4 separate regions of the Homo sapiens genome follow, and regions 2, 3 and 4 are each reported to be linked to region 1. Evidence: microRNA targets listed by miRTarBase, many of them from high-throughput screens and not tested one by one. Region 1 holds a microRNA gene; each other region holds the end of a gene's coding sequence.

Evidence for each region. The annotated mature microRNA hsa-miR-4468 reads AGAGCAGAAGGAUGAGAU and lies in region 1 at 4,159-4,176, opposite strand. An mRNA with a match to its seed (bases 2 to 7 or 8) in the 3' UTR can be bound and repressed. Matches are read on the target gene's strand: a 7mer-m8 pairs with bases 2 to 8, a 7mer-A1 pairs with bases 2 to 7 and ends in A, and an 8mer does both.
Region 2: the mRNA of PARVG is a reported target of hsa-miR-4468. Seed matches in the 3' UTR shown: 7mer-A1 at 3,310-3,316.
Region 3: miRTarBase lists LUC7L3 as a target of hsa-miR-4468. Seed matches in the 3' UTR shown: 7mer-m8 at 4,216-4,222, 7mer-m8 at 3,006-3,012 and 7mer-A1 at 2,217-2,223.
Region 4: miRTarBase lists ST3GAL5 as a target of hsa-miR-4468. Seed matches in the 3' UTR shown: 7mer-m8 at 1,164-1,170.

What each region holds. Positions count from the first base shown.
Region 1 is chr7:138,120,021-138,127,978 of GRCh38, reverse strand. It overlaps MIR4468 (microRNA 4468), which reads right to left and starts at 4,221; the gene lies at 4,158-4,221. It overlaps LOC124901828 (small nucleolar RNA U13), which reads right to left and starts at 6,891; the gene lies at 6,788-6,891. It also overlaps the pseudogene RCC2P3.
Region 2 is chr22:44,204,655-44,212,612 of GRCh38, forward strand. PARVG (parvin gamma) reads left to right here. Exons shown (of 14, transcript NM_022141.7): 13 at 1,103-1,175; 14 at 1,663-3,815. The coding sequence ends at 1,772. Among named protein-coding and RNA genes, the nearest start is that of PARVG, 28 kb to the left of the region's middle. RefSeq lists an enhancer at 1-485.
Region 3 is chr17:50,748,845-50,756,802 of GRCh38, reverse strand. LUC7L3 (LUC7 like 3 pre-mRNA splicing factor) reads right to left here. Exons shown (of 10, transcript NM_016424.5): 10 at 584-6,302. The coding sequence ends at 6,142. Among named protein-coding and RNA genes, the nearest start is that of ANKRD40CL, 15 kb to the left of the region's middle.
Region 4 is chr2:85,833,041-85,840,998 of GRCh38, reverse strand. It overlaps ST3GAL5 (ST3 beta-galactoside alpha-2,3-sialyltransferase 5), which reads left to right. Exons shown (of 7, transcript NM_003896.4): 7 at 607-3,879. The coding sequence ends at 855. Among named protein-coding and RNA genes, the nearest start is that of ST3GAL5, 52 kb to the left of the region's middle.

The sequences.
Region 1 (7,958 bases):
AGGCTTCCTCAAGGACTGATTCCCCTCAGGGGAAACTTTGTAACTTTTTTTGATTTGCTGTTAATTATTTGTGGTATAGGGTTCCTAAGACCACCCTCGGGTTCAATAATTTGCTGGAAGGAACCACAGAACTCAGAAAAGCTGTTCTACTCATAGTTATGGTTTATTATAGAAAAAGAATTTAGATTTATTATCCAAGGTAAAAGGACAATATGGCAGAGTCCAAGAGAGAGACCAGGCACAAATTTCTACTTGTTCTCTCTCAGTGGAGTTGTATAGATAGTGCTTAACTTTTCCAGCAGTGATGTGTGACAACACGTAAGTAGTATTGTCAACCAGGGAAACTTATCTAAACGTTGAGATCCAGCGTTTTTTGTTTTTTTTTGTTTTTGAGACGGAGTCTCGCTCTGTCACCCAGGCTGGAAGCAGTGGCACGATCTCGGCTCACTGCAAGCTCTGCCTCCCGGGTTCATACCATTCTCCTGCCTCAGCCTCCCGAGTAGCTGGGACCACCAGCACCCGCCACCATGCCCGGCTAAGTTTTTGTATTTTTAGTAGAGACAGCGTTTCACCATGTTAGCCCGGATGGTCTCGATCTCCTGACCTTGTGATTCGCCCGCCTCGGCCTCCCAAAGTGCTGGGATTACAGGTGTGAGCCACCACGCCCGGCCCTAGATCCAGGGTTTTTATTGGGGGTCAGTCATATAGGCTTGGAGTGCCCACATAGCTGACCTTAGTTACTCAGTCTCCAGCCCTTTGGAGTCAAACTGACATCATGTAGCCACCTGCCTCCCCACCCCCCTTCATAAATCACATTGTTAGCATAAACTGTCTAGTGTGGCCCAAAGCCCCAGATAAGCAAAGACATTCTTCTCAGGAATGACATTCCAAGGGCTTAGAGGTTATCTCCCAATAAGTGGTTAATGGCCAGACCTTTCTTTGGAAGGTGCAGGGTTTGGATTTCCCAGGTCAGCTGAGTGAACTGTTTAATAGGGTAATTTACAATTTTGTAAGAGTAGTTATTAACTAATAGAAACCTGGTAGTGATGAAAATGATTCTTGTCCAATAACAATGCAAATGGATCTTTTATTGTAGAGATATAAATTATTAAATCTGGTAGAAAAGATAAACTCAAAAGTTATATAGTTGTATTGCCTTTCAGAAGGCTAAACTGGTTTGGAGCTAAATGAGCAATTTGATCCAAGCATCCTTTCTTTCAGCTGCTGAAACATTTTACTTTCTCCAATTCTCTTGGTATTTCTCTTACCGTTTTTCTGTTTCCATCATTAATGAGATAATTAAATCACTGGTATGTACTCATTTTGTATTTACATAAAAATCATATTTTTGATTTTTTTTTTTTTTGAGATGGAGCTTCGCGCTTGTTGCCCAGGTTAGAGTGCAATGGCGCAATCTCAGCTCACCACAACCTCTGCCTCCAAGGTTCAAGTAATTCTTCTGCCTCAGCCTTCCCGAGTAGCTGGGATTACAGGCATGCGCCTCCACGCCTGGATAATTTTGTATTTTTAGTAGAAACGGGGTTTCTCCATGTTGGTCAGGCTGGTCTCGAACTCCCAACCTCAGGTGATCTGCCTGCCTTGGCCTCCCAAAGTGCTGGGATTACAGGTGTGAGCCACCATGCCCGGCCTGATTTGTAAAAAATTATACTTTGACAGTTTCTTCTCATTTACACCCTCTGATAGGCAGCAACCTTCTTAATTTTCAGTGCTGATGGAGATTTCTACTATATCATTTTTTTGGGAATCTGAAGTGAGGGAAGCAGGAAGCTAAAACCTAGTACTCCAAAACTCCTGTCAACCTAAAATAATCAAAAGGTTCAGAATCTAATTTAAAGAGAGTTTATTCAAGCTCAAACAGTGAGGACGGACCACCCAGAAACACCAACTCCAAAGGAATGGAGTCAGCATTTTGAAGTAGGGAAGTTAAGATTTCATTTATTTAGACAGAGACAGAGATTTTAGTGGGATTACAACACTATTTACACAAGGTTGGTGCATAGTTACAGCAATTTGATTGGTTATAGGCAGTGTTTCCTTTTGGGAAGGGGACATTTAACACTTTTCACAGAGGGTGTAATAGTCATGCGTTTTTTGTCATCTGGTCTAAGCAAAGTGAGGCAGCAAAGGGGAAGTGAATCTATGACCAGGGCCATTAATGAAGAAGGCAGGAGGCATTTATCTGTGGTGTAGTTGAATTCACTCTAGTCATTGTGCAGAACAAGAAAAATAAGAAAGTGAGTTAATCTATCTGAGAACAGAAGTTGTAACCATGTGTGACTCAGATCATAGTCACATCTCACTCAGGGCTTAATGTGTTCTGGGGGGGGTTCCAATAGCTTTTAAATTTTATTTATCTCCACGCCCTGAAAGTCCCTGTTGCAGACATCTCTTATTTTGCCTGCTTCTTGGGGCAACGTATTTCTGGTGATTGAGGCAGGATTGTAGTTCCTTATGATTCCTTTCTCCTTAGTGCTGCTCTTGTTCCACTCGCTCCTACCCTCTTGCCTTTCCATCCCCCTCCCACTGTCTCTCTCATTCCTCTCTTGCTTCTTCTCTGCACAGGGATGAGTTTATGTCTCAGGCCCTTCCATTCAGTCTGCCCCAGGCCATCACCATTGGTTCCAGCATGATGCATGTTGGCCAGTCAGAGTTCTTCCCAGGATTACTTCCTTGACAGAGCTATTACCAAAGACTCTCACTCTCTTCTGGGTTCCTAATCTGAGTGAAGGAGAGTGTTGCTGAGAGCTATCTTGCCTGCTTTCATGCCTGCTGTCTGGAGACAGCTAGTCCAACGGGGTGAAAACAGTCACAAGTTGTAAACACACTGCTTGAGCCCTAGTTCTAGCTGCTTACAGCCACTTTACCCCTGCACTTCTTTGTTTCCAGTTCTGTGACAAAGTGAATTCACTATTTCTGCTTAAACTAGTCTGAATTGCATTTCTATTACTAGGAACTAATAACATCCTGATGGAAAAATCGCTATGTGGAAGTGGGGCATAACAAGTGAATACTCCTGAAAGTTAGAATTGACTGAGTTAATTTGGGTGAAGCATAATGGGAAACACAGTCCTCACTGGGAGTCTGGATATCTTTTCCACTATTTTATAACAATTCATATTTTTTCCAAATATGAGCAAATATTTTAATTAAACATGAAGAGAAAAAAACAGACTTTTAAAAGTATGCAGAAAAGGATAATTAACATTGGATCCCTTGTAAAAATGGAACCTCAGGGAGTCTAACAAAAATGCAACTTTGGCTAACTTTTGCTTTTTAAAATTCCTTGTTTGACTTCACCTCCCACTGCACAGGAAATGACAGCTTCTGGGAGACGGGTGGAGTTGCAGGAGTCCCCAGGAGCATCAAAGGGTTCAGGGGTTGTATTCTAGCAGTTTCTTTCTTTTCTTTTTTCTTTTTTTTGAGTTGGAGTTTCACTCTTGTTGCCCAAACTGGAGTGCAATGGCGTGATCTCGGCTCACTGCAACCTCCACCTCCTGGGTTCAAGCGATTCTCCTGCCTCAGCCTCCCGATTAGCTGGGATTACAGGCATGTGCCACCATGCCCAGCTATTTGTTTGTATTTTTAGTAGAAACGGGGTTTCACCATGTTAGCCAGGCTGGTCTCGAACCCCTGACCTCAGATGATCCGCCTGCCTCGGCCTCCCAAAGTGTTGGGATTACAAGTGAGCCACCGCAACCGGCTCTAGCAGTTTCTTGATCTTCTCTTTCCTGGTCTCACTTTCATCTCGCACTATCACCAAGGAGTGTGAGTAGCCTATGGAGACCTGCTTTGAAAAGATGCCATTCAGAGTCTTCACCTCTTGGGCTGCAGTGGAAGACTTGGGCTCATGGTCCCTGTATCCCAATTACCTAAAGGTTGGTTATGGCCCTCAGCTGATGGTGTTCTCATTGGCGGCCACAATGTTGCTGCTCTTCCCACAAGCCAGGCTCTGGATTCTGCAGCCGCAGAGGTCCTGCACTGCTTTCAGGTACATGGAAGATTCATGGGAGATATTGGGCTCCCCCAGAAAAAGAGACTACCAACTTCACAGACAGCAAAGGACCAGGTGTAACCAACATGGATCTGGGATGCCCCACACCCAAGGAAGTCAGACTCCAACCTCACCAAGCGGGGACCATCTCATCCTTCTGCTCTGAGTGGCCCAGTCAACCATAGCCACCAAAGCCCCAGGAGAAGACTCATTTCTTGGAGTCCAGAATCAATGTGTGGTTAGCATTACAGGTCACGTCTTACACAACCGTTATTGGCTGGTGGGTTCTTGACCCTTAGTAAATAGAAATAGACCAAGAATCTGAGATGGGCTTGAGCAAGGCAGTTTATTGGAGCTCTCAGCTTGAGCAGAAGGGGAGGTAGCAGCAGGAAGAGACCTGCAGCTAGCTCCCTGACTGCAGGTTAGTTTGGGGTTTCATTTGCTTTGGAGCTCCTCCATGTGACATCATTGCATGTTTGGGGTGGTTTGGCAGTTGCACCTATGCAGTCTCTGGACATGCTTCTTCATGTGATGCATGTCTCATTAGCATCTTAAATCTCCACCCAGGGGTGTGCTTTTTACTACTGAAATGAAGCAAAGGCCAGGTTAGGACAGGCTAGGACATTACTGGGCAAGTGCATTGGGGAGCATCTTTTGCAAAGTGCCCACTGTTAGCCAAGATGCTTGTGCTCAGAATACTCTGTCTCAGATTTGATTGGTCTATTTTGTGAAAGGAAACGTTTGTGGTTGTGTGGCTGCAAGGTTGAATGTAGCTTCAGTCAGCACAGCATGTAAGGGAAATGGGGAGGGGTCCCTGCCTTGCTCTGGGGGTCTCACAACCACCTTTGGTACAGGCAGAATCTACCCATCTTTCATTCTCAGTGAAGGTGGGCCACTCATCGTGGCACCAGCACCAGCTCACAGCCTTAACTATTCACTGTGCCTGGGTCCCAGCTGACCACATTGAGGGCACACGAAGGAACAGAGGTCTCCTTTGTCGCCCATTATACGGAATTCATTTCCACTGGCCATTCTAGTAATTGGCTGCCCGTTGTCCATGATCTGTGCGGTGCTGGGGATGCTCCTGCGTGGTTGCTGAGGCTCAGCTGCCCCATCTTGTTCTCCCCAAAGGCAAACGCAGAGCCCGTTTCCGTCAAGGCCAAGGTGAGGTTCCGCCCACAGGCTGCCTACATACTCACTTCCCGGCAGAGACCCGCAATGAGTCTGGGGGCTTCCATTCTCTTGGTGTCACCAGGTCCCAGCTGCGCCTTCTTATTTTGACCCCAGCTCCGCAGCTTCCATCGTGTCGTGATGAGGATACTGTGCGCAGTGCGCAAACCCGAGACCGCTGTCCGCACCAGGACCCCGCCAGGCACCCACATCTATGGGGCCCCCACAAATTCTGACCGAGATTGAGGTAAGCAGCTTGCTGTTTAGGCACTTCTTTTCCACCCATCGAGTCCTAGTTGGTTGACCCCGAAATCAAAAACTGCCCCTTTGCACTTCGACCCTTGAAGTCTGATGCGCTCCTTGGTGTGCTCAGACTCCGCGACGACCGCGGCCCCGCCGCTCACCTTGTTCACATATGCAGCCAGCCACGCTGTGCCCTTGCCTCCGCCAGGGCCCCATGGAGCTGCCACAGCGCTCGGCCTCTTGGGCTTTCTGCCCGCACGCTGGGACCTCCACGCTTCCCGGGCCGCCTGGGGCCCCTGTGGTTACCGAAGCCCGGTTCTTCCCAGGCTACTGCCCAGTCTTCATCCTGGGCTTGTCTCTGCTGGTTGGAGTTATGAGAAACCAGACAGAAAAAGGAAGAGAAGTAACTGTTAAAAAAAGACGGATAGAAGGGCTTCCCCCTACACCCCTGTCCCTTCCTCTCCTCCCCAGCACCCCCCAGCACTCCCCACCAGACCAAGGCTCCAGCCCATTCACCAGATTCACTTAAAGTGTAACTTATATTTTGGAACTTGGACCATGTGTCTGCCAAGGCTCAGGCTTTGGTGCTGGGTTAGAAGATTGTGCTGGATGCTTCCTGTGGCCTTCGGTGAAGTCCTTCATAAAGGAACCAAGTTTTGGTTCAAGCCTGGAGTGCAGAAGGCAACGAGGGAAGAGAATGTGGCCTTATTAAGAAAGTCTGATCTGCTTTGAGCTGAATCAGGCAAGCACGTGCTGTGCAAAAGGAGAATTTTGCCCCAAGCTAGGCAGTTAGTACATCTAGGGAGGGCAGCCGGAGCTCAAGCCGAGATTCTGAAGAATCCAAATAGGAAGCCAGGGGGATATAGCTCCTGCCAGAGGAGATATGACCCAACAGAAAAAGCCTTTTACCAAAATGCCCTTTAGATGAGAGAGTAAGCCTATTAGTTGGGCATCACCCTCTCATCCTGTTTCTCATGAATGGGAGGCAGAGACTAGGGTGGAAGAAGCTAAAGTGAGAATTTGGGGATTTCATGTGTAGAGACAGAAACATTAAGGCTACTATTTGGATTCAGGGAGGATTCTGATTCAAGAAGAAGACATTGAAGTTAGCAGAAGCCTGAAATTTTGAGAGTTCTGAGAAATATCAAGTCTTAGAAATATGAGTTTGTTTATCTTTGTTAATCCCTATGACTGTGGCTTCAGAATGCACACACCTCAAAGTGTTGAAGGCTGAAGACAGGATCATTGCCTATGCCCCTCTAATGGCCTCTCCTGGTGCTGTGTTGTTACTGTGGACGGAATGACAATGCCTGAAGGAGGCCCTCTTGGAGAACTGTCAGGGATAAGAAACATTTTTTTTCGTGTCATGTGGGTAATGTGCTGATGTTATAACAAGGTTTAAGGGTGGCACGCCTCACACATGCACATGAACACTCAGTCATCACGCTCATGAACTACAAAAAGATCAAGAAACATTCCTTTTTTTTTTTGAGTGGAGTTTCACTGTGTTGCCCAGGCTGGAGTGCAGTGGCACAATCTCGGCTCACTGCAACCTCCGCTTCCCAGGTTCAAGTGATTCCCCTGCCTCAGCCTTCCAAGTAGCTGGGATTACAGGGATATGCCACCATGCCCATCTTATTATTTTTTTTTTTTTTTGTACTTAGCAGAGACAGGGTTTCCCCATGTTGGTCAGGCTTGTCTCGAACTCCTGACCTCATATCATCCACCAGCTTCGGCCTCCCAAAGTGCTGGGATTAAAGGCGTGAGCCATTGTACCCAGCAAAGAAACAGTCTTATCAAGAAACACTGCAGGTCCAGAAACATTCTGTGCACTGGGCCAGGATGTCCTTGCCGCTCCAGCCCGGTATGTTTCTGTGGACCAGTGAGCATGGCATGCCGTGGGTCTCCTCTCCTTTTTCAGGCAGGTTGCATCACTATTGACGGATCTTTCTACATAGCTGATCAGAGGCCATTGATAAGAAAAATTGATTTGGGTTAACAAACATCTTTTTGGGGTTGCGTAAGTCCCCAAAAGATCAAGATTATTGGTTGTCAATACTTGGGCTCAGTAAAGCATTGATTTGGCAAGGCCATTTTTACAGCCGATGTTAACTGGAGAGACAGGAAATCCTTACTGAGGGATGGTGTTTTCTTTTGTAAAACTGCTATAACTAAGTACCACAAACTGGGTGGCTTAAAGAACAGAACTGTAGTGTTTCACAGTCCTGAAGGCTAGACGTCTGAGATAGAGGTGTTGGCAATGTTGATTCCCTCTGAGGGCTGAGGTGTAACTGTTCCATGCTTTTTGCCTGGTTTCTTGTAGTTGTTGGCAATCTTTGTCATTTCTTACCTTGTAGAAGCATCACCCTGATCTCTGTTTTCGTCTTCACATGACATTCACCCTGTGTGTTGTCTGTGTCCAAATTTCCCTTTTTTATGAGGACACAGTCTCATTGGTTTAGGGTTCACCTTACTCCACCCTACCCCAGTATGATCTCATCTTAATTAATTACATATGCAGTGACCCTATTTT
Region 2 (7,958 bases), not on the chromosome of region 1:
CATGGGAACTGCCCTGTCCTGGTGGGGCTGGTGTGGCCAGGCAGATAGGGAGGGAACGGGACCAGCACAGCTGACCCCCGGGCTGGGATGTCCACCCCGTCTAGTGGATCTACGGGTGGCTAAGACATTGAAGGGAGGACCTGTTTGAGGTCACAGTGAACCAGGAGTTCATCCCTCTTCACCCACACCAGGCTGCTGCCCTAAGGCAAAGGGCTGGGACCTACTCTGCTTGTAGACGAGGCCCAAGGGAGAAGCTAGAATGGAAAGGGAGGGGACCTACTGTGGGAGGGCCGGCAGGCTCCTGGGCTCTCACCATATCCTGTAGCAAGGCACAGGGGAACTGTGGTGAGCCCACTTTGCAGGGGAGCAAGGGGAGGCCCTGGGCAGGGACTAAGCTGAGCTCTGAATCACTGGGGGACTTGACTGATGCCCGGGCGCTCTCCACCCTAAAGGGAGCCATCTCTGAGACTGCACCCCAGGCAAGGGGTGGCGGAAAGGACAGCCACCTGGGTGGGGACCGCTCCAGTCTCTAGCCTGCTTTGCATGAGCATTGGAGCGGACAGACCTGGTTTGAGCGCTTTCTGTCTCGTGAGCTCCAGTGAGCCCCTTGGCTCCTCTGAGCCTTGATTTCCTCACTGTGCTTTGCCCTGGGAAACAGCTGTTCTCAAAGGTGCTCTGCCACCCCAGGCCCTTGCTCCTTTCCCTGGGTAGTTCTCCCTGCCTGGCGGGACTCACCACCAGGCTTCACCTCCACCAGGAAGCCTTCCCTGATCCCTATTGGGTATCCTCCTTGGCGATTGCCTTTTTCACGGGCAGTGGCCCCTGGACGCAAGCGTGTGCCCAGTGTGGTATAGCACCTGCTCAGAGTGGGGCCTGTGAGTGGCTGAGGAATGAGACATGGATTGCTTGTGTGACAGAGTGAGCTGTAGGGAGATGCTGGATGACCACGGATTGTGGTCGTGGTCAGGGATGCCCACCTTGGATGGGAGTTTAGGCTCATGATGGACATCACAGACAACAGGAAGGGCTTGGCACTTGGGACCCAAGGCCTGGCCTGGGGCTGCTGCTTGTGCCCACATCTGATAGGGCCTTGTCATCATAGCTGCACAACGTCACCCTGGCGCTGGAGCTGCTGAAGGACGAGGGCCTGCTCAGCTGCCCTGTCAGCCCTGAAGGTGAGTGCAAGGCAGATGCCCACACGGTGGCCAGCCCTGGGTGGCAGCCTTGTGCGAGAGCCACAGAACAGGGTGCAGGGCATTGGGGGATGAGCACGCATTGGCAGAGTCCTCTTGCCTGGCAGGGGTGGAGAATGGGCGCTTGCCAAGGTTTCTTGGGAGGGGGCACTGCAGCCCCAGGGGAAGAGGTTCTGGGGAGGGGGAGACCAAGGTCTCTGGGGACAGGTTGTCCAGAGAAGCCAGACCTTGAGGAGTTGCTGTGTTGGGGGCACCACAGGAGCATTCAGAGGAGGACTGGCCAGGAGGAGGAGGCAGTCACGCAGCAGGCGCGGGACCCAGGCCTGGAGTGACCAGCTGTCCTGGCTTCCAGGGATTCTCCTGGGATTAGCACTGAAATCCTGAATGCCAGGAAACCTTGACCACATCGGGACAGTCGGTCACTGCCACCCAGGCCTGACTGGCTGCCCTGCCCTCCTTTGGCCCGCAGATATCGTGAACAAGGATGCCAAGAGCACACTGAGGGTGCTCTATGGTCTGTTCTGCAAGCACACGCAGAAGGCACACAGGGACAGGACGCCCCATGGAGCCCCGAATTGACCCTCACTGCCTCCAAAGCCCAGAGCCTGCCTGTCAGCCCAGCTGGAGGGCCCGAGGCTGCAGGGTGTCCTCCCACAGTCCCGCTGTTTCCTGTGCATTCGTGACCCGCTTCCCTCCCACCCTGTCTCCTGTCTCCATCGTTGGATTATCTTTGAACCCCCTTGTGTGGATCATTTTGAGCCGCCTGGCCTTGCTCAGTTTATTTTAATAAAAGTATTTCTGGGAGGGATTCTGGGAACTTGACAGGGTCCTGAGGAGGGCCCTTAAACCTGCAGCCTCCCTCCCATGGGGTGAGTGTGTGTCACATCAGTCTCTCATCTCTGGGCCCAGGCTAGTGACCGCCCAGAGAGGTGGCATCACTCAGGGCTGGGGACTCTCAGGGACAGGGCCCACAGCCCCAGACCCCACCTTTTCCAGCCCAGCTCCCCACACCCACCTGCTTCTCACTCGGGAGGATGGGCCCCAGAGTCACCCTCCAGGGCAGGAGCCCGAATGGCTCCATAGCCATGCCCCCACCCACCGGGAGAAGTGGATTCAGTGACTGTCAAAGCAACCCGGGCTGTGTCCTGCAGCTGCCCTCGTGAGTTTTGCCCAAAAGTCACAAAGAAGCAATCTTCGTGGTTGATTAGTGGGTTCAGGTCATCTCCAGTCTGTCCTCGGGAGCTGTGGGTTCCCACTCGCTCCAGTGAGACTTGGCATTTTCTGCACATAAAGAAGAGTCGTGTGGGAGAATTGCACATAGTCAGTCCAGGGCATCCAGAGTGGGGCAGAGCTGATGGCTGATGGGAACCGGGGAGGAGGCTGGCGGGGAGGGGTGAGATTGGTGGGGAGGGCTGGGGCTGGCCGGGAGGGGTGGGACTGATGGGGAGGGGTGAGGCTGGCGGGGAGGGGTGAGGCTGGCGGGGAGGGGTGGGACTGGTGGGGAGGAGTGAGGCTAGTGGGCGGGTGAGGCTGGCGGGGAGGGGAGGGTTTGTGGGGACGGGTGAGGCTGGCGGGGAGGGGTGAGGCTGGTGGGGAGGGCTGGGGCCTGGTGGGGAGGAGTGGGACTTGTGGGGAGGAGTGGGACTTGTGGGGAGGGGTGAGGCTGGGGAGAAGGGCAACCACAGCCCCAGGCTGCTGCTCCTCCCTGGACCCTGAAGAGGCCTCTGGGTCTGGGGTTTTCACAGTTTGACAGCTGAGGCCTTGGGGAGGGGCTTTAGATGGGGGTTAGGGGCTAGGTCATCATTGACACCCACTGGGGGCGCCTAGGCAGATGTCCTTCGGGGGAGCAAGATGGGAGCCAGGGACGCAGTGCCAGGTCAGCCCTGGGAGCTGGTGTCTGGGTGTGAGAAGGCCTTGAGGGGTCTTCCCTTCACCTAGCCTCCCATCTGCCTGCCCTTCTCAGCTCCCAATTCACAGGGCAAACCCAAGCCCATAAGCGTGTTCCACGTGAGCACTCAGATGCACCCCTCTTCATGGATACCCACCCTACTTCCCGGCTGCCTCTGGGAAACGTGCATCCTCCCACACCAGGTACCTGGAGCCCAGCTCCTTCCACCTGCTCAGGTGCCCCCTCCATTGCGATGCCCCCTCCAGCACCTCAAATCCTCTCCTGGAGCTTCTGGGGACACAGGCTCAGCCTCTCTCAGCTGGCTTCATCCCAAAAGCCTGAAATCCAGCCCCACTTCCTGGGGCCTTTGAGTCCTCACTTGCTTGGGCCCCATCCGCTGCAGGCTGGCTCTGCCTGGCTGTTCCACGTCCTCACTCTTGTTCTATTTGACAGCAATTAAAAAAAAAGTGACTTATTTAATTACTGTAGCTTTATTGAAAAATAACTTCCCAGTTTGAAGTGTACAATTTGATGAGTTTTGACAAATGCATGCAGTCATATAACCACCACCATCGTTATCCAGACATGGGACATTCCCATCACCATGCAAGTTTCTGCATCTGTCTGCAGCCAGTTCCCTTCTCCCAGCCCCTGGCCCTGGGGACCACTGATCTGTTTTCTGTCACCATCATTTAGACTTGTCTAGAATTTCTTATAAACTGTATCCTATGGTATGTTGCTTTTTGTGTCTGATTTCTTTCACTTAGCATAATGCTATTGAGAGTATCTCCATTGTTTCTTGTATCAACAACTCATGTCCTTAGTACATTCAAAAATAAGTCCTCCAATTTTGTTCTTCATTTCAAAAATTATTTTGGTTTTTCTAGGTCTTTTTAATTCTTTTGGTTTCTACATAAAATTTAGAATCAGTTTGTCATTTTCTGCAAAAAAGCCTGCTGAAATTTTGACTGGAATTGTGTTCTTTAGATCAAACTGGGGAAAACTGACATCTTAAAAATATTGGGGAGCTAAGATCACTGATTTGAGAATATTTTTCTTTTATATAAATATTTAATGCTGGATTTTTTTTTCTAAGCACAGCTTTAGCTGCATCCCACAGATACTAATATGTTGTGTTTTCACCTTCATGAAGTTCAAAATATCTTCTAGTTTCAAATGTGACTTCCTCTTTCACTCATGGGTTATTTAGAAGTGTATAATTTCCAAATATTTTGGGATTTTTTTTCCAGCTATCTTTTGGCATTGGGTTTTGTTGTGGTCAGAGAACATGCTTTGTATGATTTAAATCACTTAAAATGCATTATGACTTGTTTTATGTACTGGATTATGGTCTATCTTGGTAAATATTCTGTATGCACTTGAAAAAGAATGTGTGCTCTGCTGTTGTTGGACAAAATGTTTCATAAATGTCAATTAGGTCAAGTGGGTTGATTATGTTGTTCAGATCTTCTATATCCTTGCTAATTTTCTCTCTACTACTTCTGTCAATTACCAAGACAGAAGTGTTAAAATCTTCAACTGTAACTGTACATTTCACTATTTCCCCTTTCAGTTCTATCAATTTTTGTTTCATACCTCATATAAGATTATAATGTCCTTTTGTCTCATTTATCCCTTGTAATATCTCTTACTCTGAAATCTGCTTTGTCTGATATTAATATAGCCACTCAAACTTTCTGTTAGTATTAGCATGGTATATGTTTTTCTATATTTTTAAACTGCGTCTGTTTAAAGTAGGTTTCTTATAGACACAAATAATTGTGTCTTTTTGTACAATCTGGAAACCTCTGCCTTTTAATTAGAGGGTTTAGTCCACTTACATTTTTTATTGTGGCAAAATATACATAGCACAAAATTAACCGTTTTAGCCATTTTAAGTGTACAATTCAGTGGCATTAAGTACATTCATACTGTTGTGCAACCATCACCTCCATCCATCTCCAGAACTTTTTCATCGACCCAAACTGAGACTCTGCACCCAGGAAATACTAACTCTCCATTCTCCCCTCCCTCAGGCCATGGTAACCACTATTTCTCCCCTCCCTCAGACCACGGTAACCACTATTCTACTTGCTGTCTCTGTGAATTTGACTATTCTAGGTACCTCTAGTCCATTTACATTTAATGGAATTATTAATGCCATCTTGCTGTTTGCCTTGTTCATATGTTTTTCTTATTCCTTTTGGATTGAAGACTTTTTAGCGATGTGAATTTATTTCCATTATTGGCTTACCAACTGTATTTCGTTATTTTCATTTCCTAGGGGTTGCTCTAGACTTTATATACACATCTGCATTCATATCCTGTCATTGCTGTAACAAATTACCACAAACTTCTTGGCTTAAAACAGCAGAAATTTATTCTCCCACAATTCTGGAGGCTAGATGTCTGAAATTAAGGTGTTGGAAGGGTCACGTTCCCTCTGGAGGTTCTAGAGGGAAAGCTGTATCTTGACTCTTCAAGCTCCTGGTGGCTACCAGCATCTCTGGGCTTGTGGATGCATCACTTTAATATCTACCTTCACAGTCACTTTGCTTCTTTCTCCTTTCTCTGTCTATCCCTCCTCTGTGTCTCTCTTATAAGGGCGCTTGTCATGAGATTTAGGACCCACCTAGATAATCCACGATTATGTAATCTCAAGATCCTTAATTTAATTATATCTGCAAAAACTTTTTTCCATGATTATCTAATCTCAAGATCCTTAATTTAATTGTATCTGCAAAAACCTTTTTCCCAAAGAAGTTAACATTCACAGGTTCTGGGGATTAGCATGTGGACAAATCCTTTTGGTCACCATTTAATCTACTATAACATCTTAACTTATTACAGTCTACCTTTAAGTAATATTACTTCCATTTTACTCTTCTGTGTCCTATTGTTGTCATGTGTCTCATTTCTATAGAATAAATTTCACAATATATTATTTTTGCTTAAAAATGTCAATTGTCTTCTTTTGAGACAGGGTCTCACTCTGTCACCCAGACTGCAGTGCTCACTGCAGCCTCGACCTCCCGGGCTCAATTGATCCTCCCACCTCAGCCTTCTCAGTTGCTGGGGCTACAGGCATGCACCACCACACTTGGCTAACTTTTTTAGAATTTTTTTTTTTTTTTTTTTTGTAGAGATGAGGTCTCCTTATGTTGTCCAGGCTGGTTTCCAGCTCCTGGCCTCAAGTGATCCACTTGCCTTGGCCTCCCAGTATGCTAGGATTACAGGCATGAGTCACAGTGTCCAGCCACATCGATTGCCTTTTAAAGAGTTTTTTTTTTTTAATTGAGAAGAAAGTCTTTTATATTTACCCACATACTTATTACTCCTGGTGCTCATCGTTTCTTCTTCCATTTGGTATCATTTTCTTCCTGCCTAAAAGACTTTCTTTATCATTTTGTGTAGTGTTGGTTATATGTTAGTGAGCTTGTGTACCTACAGAAATAGATTCAGTATTGGTCCTTCCCACTCCAAACAGCTTTCCTGGCGATGCCTTCTGCTTCTAAAATTCCTGTCCCTCCTCCCTAAGGGTCACTCTCCAATCTCCACTGCAGCTCTAGCCCTGAGCTCCAGACCCACATTTCTTTCTTTTTTCTTTTCTTTTTTTTTTTGTGTGTGGTAAAATACACATAACACAAAATGTACCATCTTACTATTTTTAAGTGTATTCAGCAGTATTAAGTACATTCCTATTATTGTGCAACTGTCACCACCCTCCAACCACAAAACTCTTTGCATCTTGCAAAACTGAAACTCTGTATCCATTAAACAATAACTACCCCCATCTTCCTCCCCTAGCCCCTAGCCCCTAACAACCACTATTCTACTTTCTGACCTAATCTATATTTTGAACTTCCCAGGGCATAGCTGTGCCTGGGGTGCCCACCCCAAGCTCACCACATCCAAGTCAGAGCTTGCCCCGTTCCCTAATCTTCACTCTGGAACTTTCCAGCTGGCCTCCCTTTCGCAAGAAAGGGACTTCTTTCTTGTGACTTCACTTCTGCACCAGCAGCCAGAGTGCTTTTGTCCTCGGAACCCAGTCTCACTACCATCCTGCTCTAACCTTCCCAGGCCCCAACCTCCGGGCAGCGTCTGGACTCTGGGTGCTCTGGTGCTGCTGGCTTTGTGGTCCTCCTGCTCACTGTGTTCTGTCTCCGTCCCTGCCTCAACCTTTCCACACTGCTTCCAGTTATATCCCTGACATCTCTGCGATCTTTCCAAGTCTTTCTGATGCTGTTCCCTCTGCCCAAGATGCCCTCATCCCACCTGCCCCAGGAACTTGTCATTCAGAAAAGGAGTGGGGACATTCTTTGAGAAGAGAGTGGGGAAGAGGGTTCACCGTGGGACAAGGTGGATGCCTGGGGGCCCTGGGTGCCTGGGGGTGGGTGGAAGAAGTGGTTCCCACAAAGAAGTCTGAGACGAAGCAGGATCAGGGAGCCCTTTCCTCCCCTTATTTCACTATCCATGGCCTTCGCTCTTTTTCTCTCTTCCTCCATCCCAAGAAATCTGACTCCAGTAGAAGTTGCAGCCGAAGTTGGAAGCAGGATAATTATAGCAAGCTGAACAGGAAGGCGTCCAGGGCCAGAGAAGGAGCTGGCAGCTTGGGCTGGGTGTGCAAACAGCTTCGAAGCGAAGGGAAATGCCTCGAAGGCTGGGGTGCCTCGGAGTTGAGCTGCTTCCCAAAATAATCCAGAGGGCAGCTGTCTTGGAGTCTGAAACTGGGTCTGGCCGCCTGAGCTGCAGGAAGCCCCAGGACTCACACCAGCTCCACTCTGGGAACAGATGGAACTAAGATTTTTTTTTTTCTTTTTACCAAAGTCAGCTGGTAAGCGAACAGCTTGTCTAGAGAAAAGTGTGTTCCTGCCCCC
Region 3 (7,958 bases), not on the chromosome of region 1:
ATCAGCTCCCTGGCTGGCAGACAAGTAGAAACTATGTTAAGATGAAAATAAGGTATCACACAGAAAACATACATTTAGGTTTCTTTTTTTTTTTTTTTTTTTTTTTTTTTGAGACGGAGTCTTGCTCTTGTCGCCGTTTCTAGCTTTTTAAGAGTTACAATTAAGACCTCAATTTGAAGACTGGGCGCGGTGGCTCATACCTGTAATCCCAGCACTTTGGGAGGCCAGGGTGGGCCTGATCATTTGAGGTCAGGAGTTTTGAGACCAGCCTGGACAACATGGTGAAACACTCTACTAAAAATACAAAAAAATGAGCCAGGTGTGGTGGTGCGAAGCTGTAATCCCAGCTACTTGGGAGGCTGAGGCACGAGAATGGCTTGAACCCAGGAGGCGAAAGATGCAGTGAGCTGAGCTCGTGCCACTGCACTCCAGCCTGGGTGACAAGACAGAGACCCTGTCTCAAACAAAATAAAACCTTAAATTGGGCACTCAAGAAACAGCATCTTTAAATTTGTCACTGACTGATGGTTAATTTTACGAAATACACTACAGCTTATATATTAGTAACTACCTACACCAAGACTTTTTTCCCATTCTTCTTTTTAAATTTTATTAAGAAATATCATACATACAAAAGCACATAAACATACAGATTAAAAAAGGAAATGCCCACAGGCTTCAGAAACAGACCCTCACCAGTTCTTCTGAAGACCCCTGTGCCCTCATGATCACCTCTCCCTCCATCAAAACGGCTAACATTAAATTTTGTCTTAATCGTTTCCTTTTATCATGTATTTGACAGCCTGTTTTTGACTTTCATTGAAATGGAACCATAGTGATGTATTCTTCTGTGACTTGCTTTTTTTGATCCTTCTATTGTTGAGTTTTGTCCATGTTCACATACACAGCTGCAGTTCAGTTTCACTTCTGTGGAATTCCACTGTTGGAATATACCACAGTATTTATCCAACACACTGTTGGTGGACACTTGGGATCTTCCCGGGTTTTTTCTTCTTTTCTTCCTATTACACACAAATGCTTAAATCCATCCCCTGGTACGCATGTGTAAGAGTTTCTCTAGGGTATGTATCCGGGAATGAATGGCTACGAGAGAGGTTATGGCACACCCACTTATACCAAATTGTTTCCCGTTTCCCAAAGTTGTTGTTTCTAAACATTCTTAAATCTGTTGACAAATGACCTATTTGGGATGGCTGAGGGGAAGAAATAGATCAGCTACAAAACTCTTGAATTTTTAAAATAGTAAATTCAAAATTCTGATACAACAATGAAAAATACATTTACTTCTCTGCTTTGGCTTACTTGAAATGTACTTTTTAAAACTACAGGTTCAACTTAAAAGTGCTCTCCTTTATCTCAAAATAAATGTTTCTAAATATTACCAGGTAAAAACAGCAAGACTCAGAACATACGGGTATACCGTCATATATTTTGAAAGATCTATACATATATGTTTATATTTCCTCCCACCTCCCATCTCCCCACAAAGAAAACAACTTGGAAGAATAACTGTTAACAGCAGCAAGCTCCTGCAGAGGAAAAACAGAGAAATAGGAGTAGTAGGAGACATAGATCACTGAACACTTTTTTTTTTTAACCATGGGCAACATTACAATTATAATACAAAATTTCAAAAGTAGACCTGGGGTTCTTTCACAAACAACTAAAAAATCCCTCAGGAAATCAAACTTGAAAACCAATCCTGCATGAAGTCCCATCCCACAGAATTGTATACATAATAACTTCAAGTGTTTTTTGTTTCATGCACATATCAGATGTTTAAAAACATATTCACATAGCCCATCTGCAATGCATTTTTAAAAACAGAATGGATGAGGGCTCAGAGAACTTCCACCATAAAAATTTTCAGTTCTTACAAGTCTGAAAACTTTAATCAGAAGGTGGCTGAGCTCAACCAATATGTGGTCCAAGTGTTCTCAGACCTTAGAAATAAGGTTGGTTATTTATCCTCTGTGACACTAACTATATTTAAGGAACCAGAATGCCTAAGGAGAGGGAGTAAAAATATCTGAGCTGAGCAATATGACTAGGTTATTATAAGCTCAAGATCAAGAAAAGGATGTTTCAACCCAAACTGAAAAATGAATGGACTGTGTTTGAAGGGGAAAAAAAAACGTTTTAACAAAAAGGAGCATGATATGTATTATCTCTACATTCCAGAGGAGAGGATGTCTTGAGCAGCAGACTGGTCGGTCCTCTTGAAAGGCTCAATGAAAATTAAACTATTGGACCAGTGCTAATATAGTTTGATGACCAACAAAAGTTTACCCAATTTGTTTTATACTAATGAACTGTTATTTAAGAGGTCTTTGTCTTTTAGAGATACATGCTGAATTATTTACAGATTAAATGGTGTGTCTGAGACTTGCTCGAAAATAATAGAAAACAGTGGATACAAATACAATCACTCATGAAGTATAAAAGTGGTCATGAGTCTTGTTGGTGATGAGTTAACAGAGGTTAATTATATTGTTCCTCTTTTGTGTATGTCTTTAAATTTCCAAAATAAAGTTTTTTTTTTTTTAAGACCAACTGATTGCAGATTCCAAACTTACCAAGCAATCTGATTGATTAAAACTGGTTTGCTCCCCTTAAAGACCTTCCAAAGAGAAAATACATATTCACCAACTAATAACTTTTTGGTCTGCATGGCAGAAATGTTTGTTTCTTCTAGTGAACTGGTCTCAATACTGGATTCTTGTGAGCTGGTTAGCAACAATCAGTTCCTCTTCAGTCACATCAATTTTGGGTGTAAAATTCAACTTCTACGTCTCTCTCCATAACTAAAGCCAGGCCTTAGTCATAGATGTCCTGGGGAGGCAGGTCCTCCTCCCACCACCCCCACATCCCAGGTAACTTCAATAGTTACAATATATCTAAGTGTCCATAGAGGAAGCCTTTTCATATGAACTCATTTATTATACTTCATTTAAGTTAGTTAGACGTTGATTCTAGATGAGGCAGAGCAGAACAAATCTGGTATTTTAGTAACTTCCTAGATTTTTTATTACTTAGGGACAGAATATGGTTTAAAAACTATCACTTTAAGTCCTTTGCTGCTACAACCACAATGCTGTCAAACTACACAAAGCAGTGCCTGGGAGCTATCTTTGTGTTTGTTAGATTTTACTTCCCATTTTATCTTAATCCTCATGTGAATTATCTCTTACAAATTCAGAGATAACCCATTCATCTATTGCTGCATCTCCAGGATCAGCTAGGGAGCCAGGAGGGCTCTGTCTCCACAGCATTTTTTCATACAGAGCCTCTAAAGTGGGGGCGGCTTCATTATTTTTCAAAGTTTGGTGGAAGAGATTTTAGTAAATTCTTTAACAATTCATTATGCCTATTAGAATGAACACAGTGGCTTAACAGGCACTGGACCATGAGGCAGAGACCTAGCAACTCCATAAACATGAAGCCACAGGACCCTCCCTGGATAAGTCATTTAACACACTGTTTCTTTACCTATAAACTGATAGCAGTATTTGCAAGTTATAAACCACAAGGAATTGCTATGATATATATGTATGTGTGTATATACGTAGCTGGAGAGAATACTTTTATACAGTCGAAGAAGCTGGCTATAGATAGAAACATGCTGCCGGTTTTCCTAGATGTGACACAAAAATAATCACTTAAGTGGGGGGAAAAAACCCTTGCCATATATACTACACACCCTATACACAAATACATTTATAAACTGACACAGCTGGGTTAATCTTGATACAGGACTTAACAAAAACTAGCTCTTGAATGCTTTTCTACATCATCCCATAGCTAGCCAGCTAAAGAGTGCTTGTCAGGATACTTGGAATTTTCTACTAAATGAATCTCTCAGGGATGTAAAAATATATTCTAGTTCACTGCACATCTTTGCTATTAAAAGCAAAATTCAAATTTATTCATAACCACCTAAAATTGAAGCACCATTATTTAAAACATTAGAAAGTCTATAAAAATTAGTCTTAAACAGAACAAATCAGATAAAACTGTACACCAACACCTCTAGTAATAGTGTAACTCTTGTATTTAAAACAGGGGACTAGTTCAGAGTCAATAACTTTATTAGAAAAAGATTAATACTAAAACTTTTCAATGACAGAGACAATCAACTTTGTAACAGAAAGTCAGAGATACTTTATTTTTACTTCTAAATCCAAAGGCTAAGTAGAGCAGAGTTGTAAAAATGAAATCCCACTTAGTCTGATTCACACGAATACTAACGTTTAATCCTGTTTTCAAAGTCCAAGATTGAAAACTTGCAATTAAACACTGAGCAAGCCACATGTTTAAGTAATATTTCTTAAAAAGTCTTAAAGAAAAAAGTATGATACAGGACCTAAGTTTTCAGTGGCATATATACTATTAACACATGTTCTGAAATCTGGTAGGTCACATCAGTCCTGAATTAACTTTTAATAATAATAATAATAAAAAAACTAACTGAGCTTTATACTTTTTCTATGCCACTATAGCTTTCTTTCACCTCATTTTTTAAATGTCGATCTTCACTTTATGCCGTTCTCAGTATTCTTCCAAAAATCTTCGAACAGTAGTCCTACAACGCAAAATTTGGGGAAAAATGATAATTAGACAACATGTAAAAGGCCAATTTTTATGAGAAAGTGTTGGCCCAGTCACTAACTGCTAATTAACATGTGTACATGGAATGCTTGTATTCTTTTTAATTATCAAGGCATCAGTGTGGTTCTTAAAGCCATGTGCCTGTGTATGCTTGCCTAAGTGTGAATGACATACACAGACATAACCTTACATTGCTTTCCCAAAAGGGGAATGCCACCAACAAATCAACTAATTGGTACTTCCTTTCATTAGGAATATTTTGTCCCACACCACTAGCCCACAGAATGAAGTTTACAGGTTTTAAGAACACTTACAGTACCTAACTTTTAATATTTCTTTAAAAACCCAAATTCGTTCTATATAGTGCATCAGTTCTTTGATTTCACAAATTGAAGGTGTCTGTCCTTGCTATTCACACTGCTGCTTTAAATGTATCAGCCAGTGAGTGACTATTCCTACATACCTATGGCTGACTGCAAATTCTCCTACACAGTAGGAAATATTAAGCACATACCTCTTATAGACTTGAGAATTGCATTGAGTGTAACAAGGCGAATAATATGAAGTGTTTATTGTATTTAAAATTCTTTAAAGATATCTAATTCTGGCCACCACTGCAGCCCTACATACAGTTGAAAAAAAATTCCATTCTGTTAACATTTGTTTTATAAGTTTTCACGCAATACACAAAAAACCCCTCTGCACTTCTTGTAAAGAACAAAAAAGATACACAACAGTTAAGCGTAAAGATCACAGGCAATAGCATTCAAACATGGATGTGGGTAGAGAAAGGAGTACCTGGCATGAGTACCTGCTTAGTTTGACTGAATCCTTGATTTTTAATTTGGCTTTTCATGGGCCGCTCACAACACCAACGCTGTGTGAGGTATGGTAGTCAGCTGCAATAATTCATAAACCCTACACTTCCATCAATCCAATGCTACTGGCTCTCGAGTTACAGAACAAACTGCATTAGAATGCAAGGCAATAAAGCAAAAAACTAGAAACATCCTTGACAAAGAAATACTAGCAGTTTAATTAAAACAAAGTAGTCCAACATGTGCCTCCGAAATATTTAAGTTTTTAAAGCATATGTCTCTGCCAATGTACCAACACAAGATGGACTTAATACCAAAAAGAAAAAAAAAAACAGTTCAACCTTTTTATTAAAAAAAAAAAAGAAATGACATCAAAATCCCTAAAAAAAGGATAATTAACTTTTCAATGGCGACTATATTACAAATGTGGGCGATAATTTCCAAAGAGGCACACTAATGGGGGCACGAGTCTGCTACAAAATAGCTGAGACAAAACAATGTACCTCAAAATGTTTTGCAGGACTACACTGTCTTTTCCTTCAGAAGAGGCTTTTGTATGTCTTCTTACTCGGCTTAGTTCCATCTTCATCTGTGCATACTTACGCTGCACTGTCAAACAGTAACAAAAAGCCCTAATCAAAGTGAGAAACAATACACTTACCTCTGTCTGATCTGAGGTCTTATCAGATCAGTTTTAATTGGACTGAGTGTCACCTTCAGATTTAATGTCTTCACTGGTCCCATTGACCTCATTCTTAGTATCACTTTCCTTCGATTCAGTGTTTGTGTCTTCACTCTGCTTTTCTCGACTACCGGACTTCACACTACTTTTTTTATCATCAGATCCCCTCTTTTCTGCCATAAAAGAAGACATTGACCATGGATTTTAAAGTAAAATACAATAAAGACATGATTTTGAAAAAAAGTGAAACAACTGAGAGATGAGAGACAATCATTTCCCACAGACTGCAAGCAACGGTTTGGTGAATTTACCAAAGGGATAAAATTTGTAATATATGAGAGAGAAGGCAGGAAGGGGAATTCAAGGAAGCAAAAGGTAAAATAGTGGGTAAATTCTCTCAATTGGTGAGAAGCTATTAAGCACATTGCAGAATATAATATTTAAGTAAATTTCATTGTGGGTAAAAAACATCAAAAAGCACTGGGAAAGGTATAAAAGACAGCATACAAAACTATGTTCACATGAGGTTCAATTATTAAGTTAGAAGGGTAAAAATGGAGACCCCAAAAGGTGAAAAAAAGTTGAATGTTTATAACAGGCATGTTTTAAAAACTACAACTACATATTTTTCAATGCAAAACATTATTTTTATATATATTTGAATATCCAAGAAGGATAAGCCTAATCAAAGAAAATGGATCTTAAATCCCAATCTAAGCAACTGAACTTTTGTGCTTTGCTAAGAAAAGTAATATATATGCCATCTGAGAGTTGTTTTTCCAAAAAGAGAAATTAAAATTCAACTCAGCTGCAAATGAAGAATGAAAAAGGTAAACAACTTTTTCCTCTACTATTCTTTGGATGGGTAAGACCTCAGACTAGAGGTAAAAGTAGTACACCAGAGCAAGCATAGTCTAGCCTTTTCAGTTCCAAGTATTCCCCCAACAAAAAATTTCTACAGAAAATGTTAAAGCCAACTAGAAACTTTCTGGAAAAATTACTTTTCCCCTTACTAAGAATAGCTGGTCTGGCAGAGTAGTTAATTAGACAAAAAGACATTTTAAGAGAAACAGAACCCTCTACATAGTTTCTGCACAGTTATGAAGACGTAACACCAAATATCTAGGAAAGAGATGGTAATGAAAAACAAAACATGGTATGGGAGGGGCACCCACTCAGAGAACTGAAGATCTTATGTAAAAGAGCATATTTAGTCCGTAACACTTGCATAATACACAAAGCAATGTCCAAGTAGTTAAGCGCAAGACTTGCTTCATGTCTGTCTGTCCACTTGTGAGAACTGTGCCAGGACAGTGGGCTCTAACTGACCTTGTGGGAAAGTCCTCCCTTTGTGCCTTATGGGCTTCTCCGGTGCACAGGTAGCTTCAATGAGGAAGAGTCGTCTTGTTGTCCCGTAGAGGACTAGTAGTCAGTCCAATAATCTTATCTTCTGCCCTATGTAAATATGGTAGATCTTAATAGTCCTAAGGACATCCACAATTTGTGGTGGATTTTAGGGCTATGGATGAAAAAAGGAAACTCTCTTGACAAAGAGAGCACCTTACACTGGTTGCTGACAGCTTTGTGTGAGAAACCACTTTTCATTTGTGGAGTAAGATAAACTGCTTCTATCATAGCACCTGGAGTAATAAACTTGCTTTTTCTCATTTGCCATTAATAAATGCCCACTGTGGCTCACACCTGGTCCCAAAGTCCAGATCTTCAGTCATTTATAAGAGTGCCTAGATGGCTACATGGTAGTTTCTTTTCTGTATTTTTTTTTTTACATTTTTTAAATTCACTCATCTGCACACTGATTTTAATTAATT
Region 4 (7,958 bases), not on the chromosome of region 1:
ACCAGTGGGGTAGACATTTTAGAAGGAATGCCTTTTTTTTTTTTTTTTTTTTTTTTGAGACAGAGTCTTGCTCTGTCGCCAGGGTGGAGTGCAGTGGCTCGATCTCGGCTCACTGCAGCCTCCGCCTCCTGGGTTCAAGTGATTCTCCTGCCTCAGCCTCCTGAGTAGCTGGGACTACAGGCGTGTGCCACCACACCTGGCTAAATTTTGTATTTTTAGTAGAGACAGGGTTTCACCATATTGGCCAGGCTGGTCTCAAACTCTTGACCTCGTGATCCGCCCACCTCGGCCTCCCAGAGTGCTGGGATTACAGGCGTGAGCCACCGCACCTGGCCTAGAAGGGGAATACCTTTTAACTTGGTGTAAGAATTGTCAGGCTGCCCCTTGAAAGTGTGTGAACATCACAGACCATGTTTTAGAGCCTAGATTCCTGACTTAAATGGAGAGTTGGACTCTAAAGTTCATGATGTATAAAATTATGTGATGTATGAAATTGCAGCCCCCAATGTAGCTTTCATGACTCTGCGTAGCATGTGTAATACCAGCAAAATGGTGACTTGTGCCAAAATTTTTTTTTACTTTTTGGTCTTCTTTTCCCTTTCTCAGAACGTCCCCACAATCGGTGTCATTGCCGTTGTCTTAGCCACACATCTGTGCGATGAAGTCAGTTTGGCGGGTTTTGGATATGACCTCAATCAACCCAGAACACCTTTGCACTACTTCGACAGTCAATGCATGGCTGCTATGAACTTTCAGACCATGCATAATGTGACAACGGAAACCAAGTTCCTCTTAAAGCTGGTCAAAGAGGGAGTGGTGAAAGATCTCAGTGGAGGCATTGATCGTGAATTTTGAACACAGAAAACCTCAGTTGAAAATGCAACTCTAACTCTGAGAGCTGTTTTTGACAGCCTTCTTGATGTATTTCTCCATCCTGCAGATACTTTGAAGTGCAGCTCATGTTTTTAACTTTTAATTTAAAAACACAAAAAAAATTTTAGCTCTTCCCACTTTTTTTTTCCTATTTATTTGAGGTCAGTGTTTGTTTTTGCACACCATTTTGTAAATGAAACTTAAGAATTGAATTGGAAAGACTTCTCAAAGAGAATTGTATGTAACGATGTTGTATTGATTTTTAAGAAAGTAATTTAATTTGTAAAACTTCTGCTCGTTTACACTGCACATTGAATACAGGTAACTAATTGGAAGGAGAGGGGAGGTCACTCTTTTGATGGTGGCCCTGAACCTCATTCTGGTTCCCTGCTGCGCTGCTTGGTGTGACCCACGGAGGATCCACTCCCAGGATGACGTGCTCCGTAGCTCTGCTGCTGATACTGGGTCTGCGATGCAGCGGCGTGAGGCCTGGGCTGGTTGGAGAAGGTCACAACCCTTCTCTGTTGGTCTGCCTTCTGCTGAAAGACTCGAGAACCAACCAGGGAAGCTGTCCTGGAGGTCCCTGGTCGGAGAGGGACATAGAATCTGTGACCTCTGACAACTGTGAAGCCACCCTGGGCTACAGAAACCACAGTCTTCCCAGCAATTATTACAATTCTTGAATTCCTTGGGGATTTTTTACTGCCCTTTCAAAGCACTTAAGTGTTAGATCTAACGTGTTCCAGTGTCTGTCTGAGGTGACTTAAAAAATCAGAACAAAACTTCTATTATCCAGAGTCATGGGAGAGTACACCCTTTCCAGGAATAATGTTTTGGGAAACACTGAAATGAAATCTTCCCAGTATTATAAATTGTGTATTTAAAAAAAAGAAACTTTTCTGAATGCCTACCTGGCGGTGTATACCAGGCAGTGTGCCAGTTTAAAAAGATGAAAAAGAATAAAAACTTTTGAGGAACTCTCGTAGTCTGGTTAATTTGGGTGCTTATGTCTATGAATCTACCCAAAACCTCCTTCTTGGATGCTGCTGCTAGGCGGAGACCTCTCTGTGGATGCCAGTAGTGAGGGACAGAGAATTAAGGCACCTGGTCCTGCAAGCTGCTTGAGTCCAGACAACTGTGAACCCTTCTGAAGAGATGCTGGGTGTCGGTGGCTTCCTCCCCAAAGACAGGCTGCCCCTAGCTTCTGTCTCTTAATGGCTCTAGCCTCTGATATCAGAAGATCTGCTACTCTGTTCCCAGCCTGCCCCAGACTCGGCTGCCGCCATCGCTGTTCTCCACTCTGTGGCTGCTCTTGTCACTAATGCTACCTGCCTCCACTTTCCCTTCCTGCAACTGCTTGTGCAGCCCCAGTGCAGCCTTGGCCCCAGCCCATTCGAACGTCTTCCCATCTCCCTCCTCCTCACCATATGCAGGGCCAGGAGTCAGGTCATAGCATTCAAAGCAGAGTCCCTTCTGTCTCCTGGGGTCTGGGATCCAGCTCAGAGTGGCCAGGAGAGCAAAAGTCATATTTCTCTCGTTTTGTGTCTTTACAGATAATTTTGTATGAATTTTATTTCCTACTCTATAAGCTACTGCTTGTTTAAGAGAAAATGTTTTAAGATTATCACCCATCAAATGAGTTTAGAAAATTGAGACTCTGGAAGATGGTCCACAGCTCCCTTGTGGCTCAGGTGGTGCTGGGCTTACACCACACAGCTCCACCCCTACATCCCTCAGGGGGTTATTGGAGAAGCCGGAACTTCCTCAGACAACGTTCTTAATGCTACGAGCGCCTCCTTGCTGGTATGAGGAGACTTGCCTACCTGCTTCTCAAGGCTGCTGGGATGTGTGGTGCTCAAAGCTTCCACTTGGTCAGCTTGCAGCCATTCTCAGGCCTGCTCCCATCCCCATCCCTCCTCCCTGTAAGGCCCTTCTTGCATCCTTAGGTTGCTTTGCTCATGTCTCTCAACTTTTACTTACTCAGGTGGTAAGCAGATACCCTAAAAAGGTATATTTTTGTAGACCTTTTATAGAGTCCACCAGCCAATAGGAGTTGGCTGGAGATCATTCTCAAGAACTTTTCACACTTTGGCATTCATTTGTTGGAAGTTGCATCTTCACTTCAGAGCTGTGCCCCCATTACTCCCCCACCCCACACACACTCTTCTGAAAACAGACCTTTGCTAGGTGCCTCTGGGTGTTCTAAAGTTGATCTCCAGTAACTGAGAATTCACTGCCACACTAACAGCTTTGTATTGCATTCTAGACCCGCACACACACCCTCCGACATAAATGAAATCACTGGTTCTGAGGCAACTTAGGAAGACTTACACATGTTCTGTATTTTAACATGCTTCTAGAACTTTGAGCTGCAGAAAATTTCAGTTTTAGGGTTTTTTAATTTTAATTTTTGATTGATACATAGTGATGTGCATATTTTGAGGGTCCATGTGATAATGTAATACATTTGTGTAATTATAAGGAGCAAATCTGTGTAACTGGGATATCTGTCACATTAAATATTTGTCTTTATGGTAGAAACATTTGAATTATTCTAGTGATTTTGAAATACACAGTAAATTATTGTAAACTATAGGCATTCTACTGACCTATCAAACACTAGGTCTTGTTTCTTTTATCAAACTGTATGTTTGTACCCATTAATCAACCTCTCTTCATTTCCCCCTACCCTTCTTGGCCTCTGGTAACTACCAATCTACTCTCTATCTTCATGAGATCCACTTTTTTAGCTCCTACATAGGAATGAGAACATGTGATATTTGTCTTTCTGTGTTTGGCTTATTTCACTTAACATCACCTCCAGTTCCATCCATCTTGCTGCAGATAACATGATTTCAACCTTTTTATGGCAGAATAATATTCCATTGTGTATATATACCACATTTTCTTTATTCATTCACCCATTGATGGACACTTAGGTTGATTTCATGTTTTGGCTATGTGAATAGCGCTGCAATAAATATGGGAGTATAGATATATCTTCAATATGTCTTTTGTTTTGGATATTGATATGGTTTGGCTCTGTGTCCCCACCCAAATTTCATCTTGAATTTTACTCCCATAATTCCCATGTATTGTGGGAGGGACCCTGTGGGAGATCATTTGAATCATGGAGGTGGTTTCCCTCATACTGTTCCCATGGTAGTGCATAAATCTCACAAGATCTGATGGTTTTATCAGGGGTTTCCACTTTTGCATCCTCCTCTCTTGCCACTGCCATGTAAGAAGTGCCTTTTGCCTCCCACCTTGATTCTGAGGCCTCCCCAGCCATGTGGAAATGTAAGTCCAATTAAATCTCTTTTTGTTCACAGTCATGGGTATGTCTTTATCAGCAGCGTGAAAACAGACTATTATGGATATATAATCAGTAGTGGAATGGCTGGATCAGATGGTAATTCTATTTTTAGTTTTTTGAGGAACCTCCATGCAATACTCCATAGTGGCTGTACTAATTTACATTCCCACCAACAATGCGCAAGGGTTTCCTTTCTCTACGTCCTTGCCAGCATTTACATTCCCTGTCTTTTTAATAAGATCCATTTTAACTGGGGTGAGATTATATTGTGGTTTTGATTTGTATTTCTTGATGATTAGTAATATTAAGCATTTTTTTCATATACCTCTTGGCCCTCTGTCTTTTTTTGAGAAATGTCTCTTTAGATCTTTTGCCCATTTTAAAATCAGTTTGTTTTTTACTTTTGAGTTGTTTGAACTCTTTATATATTTTGGTTATTAACCCCTTGTCAGATGGATAGTTCACAAGTATCTTCTCCCATTCCATGGATTGTCTCTTGACTTGTTGATTGTTTCCTTTACTGCACAGAATGTTTTTAGCTTGATGTAATTCTATTTGTCTGTTTTTGCTTTGGTTGCCTGTGCTTTTGAGCTCTTACACAAAATATTTTTGCCCAGACCAATGTCCTGGAGTGTTTCATAGTTTTAGGTCTTAGATTTAAATCTTTAATCCATTTGCTTTGGTTTTTGTATATGGTGAGAGATAGAGGTTCAGTTTTATTCTTTTGCATATAACTATCCAGTTTTCCCAGCATCATTTATTGAAGAGACTCTCTCCTTTCCCCATTGTATGTTCTTGGTGCCTTTGTCAAAAATGAGTTGGCTATAAACGCATGGATTTATATCTGGGTCTGGGTTCTCTATTCTGTTCCATTGGTCTGATGTCTTTGCATGCCAGTACCATGATGTTTTGGTTACTATAGCTTTGTAGTATATTTTGAAGTCAGGTAGTGTGATTCCTATAGCTTTGTTCTTTTTGCTCAGGATTGCTTTGGCTATTTGGGGTCTTTTGTGGTTCCATGTAAATTTTGGAATTATTTTTTCTATTTCTGTGAAGAATGTCATCGGGTCCATGAGCGTGAAATATCTTTCCATTTTGGGGTGCCCTCTTCAGTTTCTTTCATTAGTGTTTTATAGTTGTCTTTGGATAGATCTTTCACATCTTTGGTTAAATTGATTCCTAGGTATTTTGTATTCTTTGTAGCTACCATAAATGAAATTGATTTCTTGATTTCTTTTTCAGATTGTTGTTCTTGGGATATGTAAATGCTATTGATTTTTGTATGTTGATTTTGAATGCTGCAACTTTACTGAATTCACTTATCAGTTCCAACAGTTGTTTGGTGGAGTCTTTAGGTTTTTCTAAGTATAATATCATGTCATCTGCAAACAAGACTAATTTAAACTTCTTTCTTTGATGCCCTTTATTTCTTTCTCTTGCCTTATTGCCCTGAAACTTCGAGTAGTAGGTCAAATAAAAGTGGTGAAAGTGGGCATCTTTGTCTGGTTCCGGATTTTAAAGAAAAGGGTTTCAGTTTTTCCCTATCAGTATTATATTAGCTAGGAGTTTTTCATAGCTAATGACCTTTATTATTTTGAAGTATGTTTCTTCTATACCTAGTTTGTTGAAGGTTTTTTTCTTATAAAGGCATGTTTAATTTATTGAATGCTTTTTCAGCATCTATTGAAATAATCATATCGTTCTTGTTCTTGGTTCTCTTAATGCGATATATTGTGTTTATTGATTTGTATGTTGAACCATCCTTGCATCCCTAGGATGAATCCTATTTGATCATGATGAATTATCTTTTTAATGTGTTGTTGAATTCCATTTGCTAGTATTTTTTTGAGGATTTTTGCATCTATGTTCATCAGTGATATTGGCCTATAGTTCTCTTTTTTGGTTGTGTCTTTGTCTGGTTTGGTATCAGGGTAATGCAAGCCTTATAGAATGAGTTTGGAAATATTCCCTTCTCTTCAATTTTTATGAAGCATTTGAATGGAATTGGTCATCATTCTTCTTTAAATGTTTGGTAGAATTCAGCAATAATGCAATCAGGTCCTAGACTTTTCTTTGATGGGAGACATTTTATTATGGCTTCAATCTCATGACTCATTAGTGGTTTGTTGAAATTTTCTATTTCTTCATGGTTTCAATCTTGGTAGGTTGTATGTGTCCAGGAATTTGCCCATTTGTTCTAGGTTTTCCAACTTGTTGGCATGTAGTTGTTCATAACAGCTTCTAATGATTTTTTGTATGTCTGTGGCATCAGTTGTTATGTCTCCTGTTTCATTTACAATTTTATTTATTTGAGTCTTCTCTCTTAGTTAATCTAGCTAAAGGTTTGTCAATTTAGTTTTTGCCAAAAAAAAAAAACCTTTTCATTTCATTGATTTTCTTTATTTTTTAGTCTCCATTTATTGCTGCTCTGAATTTTATATCTTTTCTTCTAATTTTGAGTTTAGTTTGTTCTTTTCTAGTTTTTTGAGGTACATCATTAGGTTGTTTATTTGAAGTCTTTCTACTTTTTTGTTACAGGCATTTATTGCTATAAAATTCCCTCTTAGTACTATTTTTGTTGTATTCTACACATTTTGATATGTCATTTTCCATTTTCATTTGTTTCCAGAAATTTTTAAAATTTTCTTAATTTCCTTATTGGCCCTAGGTCATTCAGGAGTGTGTTAATTTCCATGTGTTTGTGTATTTCCCAAGGCCCCCCTTGTTATTTCTAGTTTTATTCCATTGTGATCAGAAAATATACTTGATATGATTTCTACTTTTTTGCATTTGTTGAGACTTGTTTTGTGGCCTAATATACAGTCTGTTTTGGAGAATGTTCCATGTGCTGATGAAGAAAATGTGTATTCTGCAGCAGTTGGGTAAAATGTTCTGTAAGTGTCAGGCCTAATTTGATCTGGTGTGTAGTTTAACTCCAGTGTTTCTTGATTTTCTGTCTGGATGACCTGTCCATCACATATAGTAGCATGTTGAAGTCCCCTACTATTATTGTATTGCAGTCTATCTCTCCCTTTAGATTTGTTAATGTTCGCATTATATACTTGAGAGCTCTGTTGTTCAGTACATAGATATTGATACATATTTCCTCCTGCTGAATTATTCCCTTTATCATTAGTGATCTTCTTTGTCTCTTTTTACAGTCTTTGATCTGTAGTCTGTTTTATCTGATGTAAGTACTTACTTATATCAGCTACTTACTCCTGCTCTTTTTTGGTTTCCAATTACATAGAATATCTTTTTCCATCCCTTCACGTTAGAAGTGAAATGATCTTCTTGTAGGCAGCATATAGTCAGGTCTTATTTCTTTATCCATTTAGCCATTCTATGTCTTTTAATTGGAGAACTGAGTCCATTTACATTCAGTGTTTTTGTTGATAGGTAAGGACTTACTACTGCCATTTTGTTGCTTGTTTTCTGGTTGTTTTGTAACTCCTCTCTTCCTTTCTTACTGTCTTCCTTTGTGGTAAGTGATTTTCTCTGATAGTATGTTTTAACGCATTGCTTTTTATTTTTAGTGAATCTATTATAGATTTTTGCATTGTGGTTACCATCAGGCTTACCAAAAAAATCTTACAGATACAACAAGTTATTTTAAAGAGATGGCAGCATAGATCACACAGAAAATAGAAACAAAGAAAAATGTAAAAACAAAAAACTGAAAAAACCTCTACACTTTAACTTCATCCTCCCCACATTTTGGCTTTATATTATCTCAATTTATATATCTTTATATTCCCTATCTCCCTTT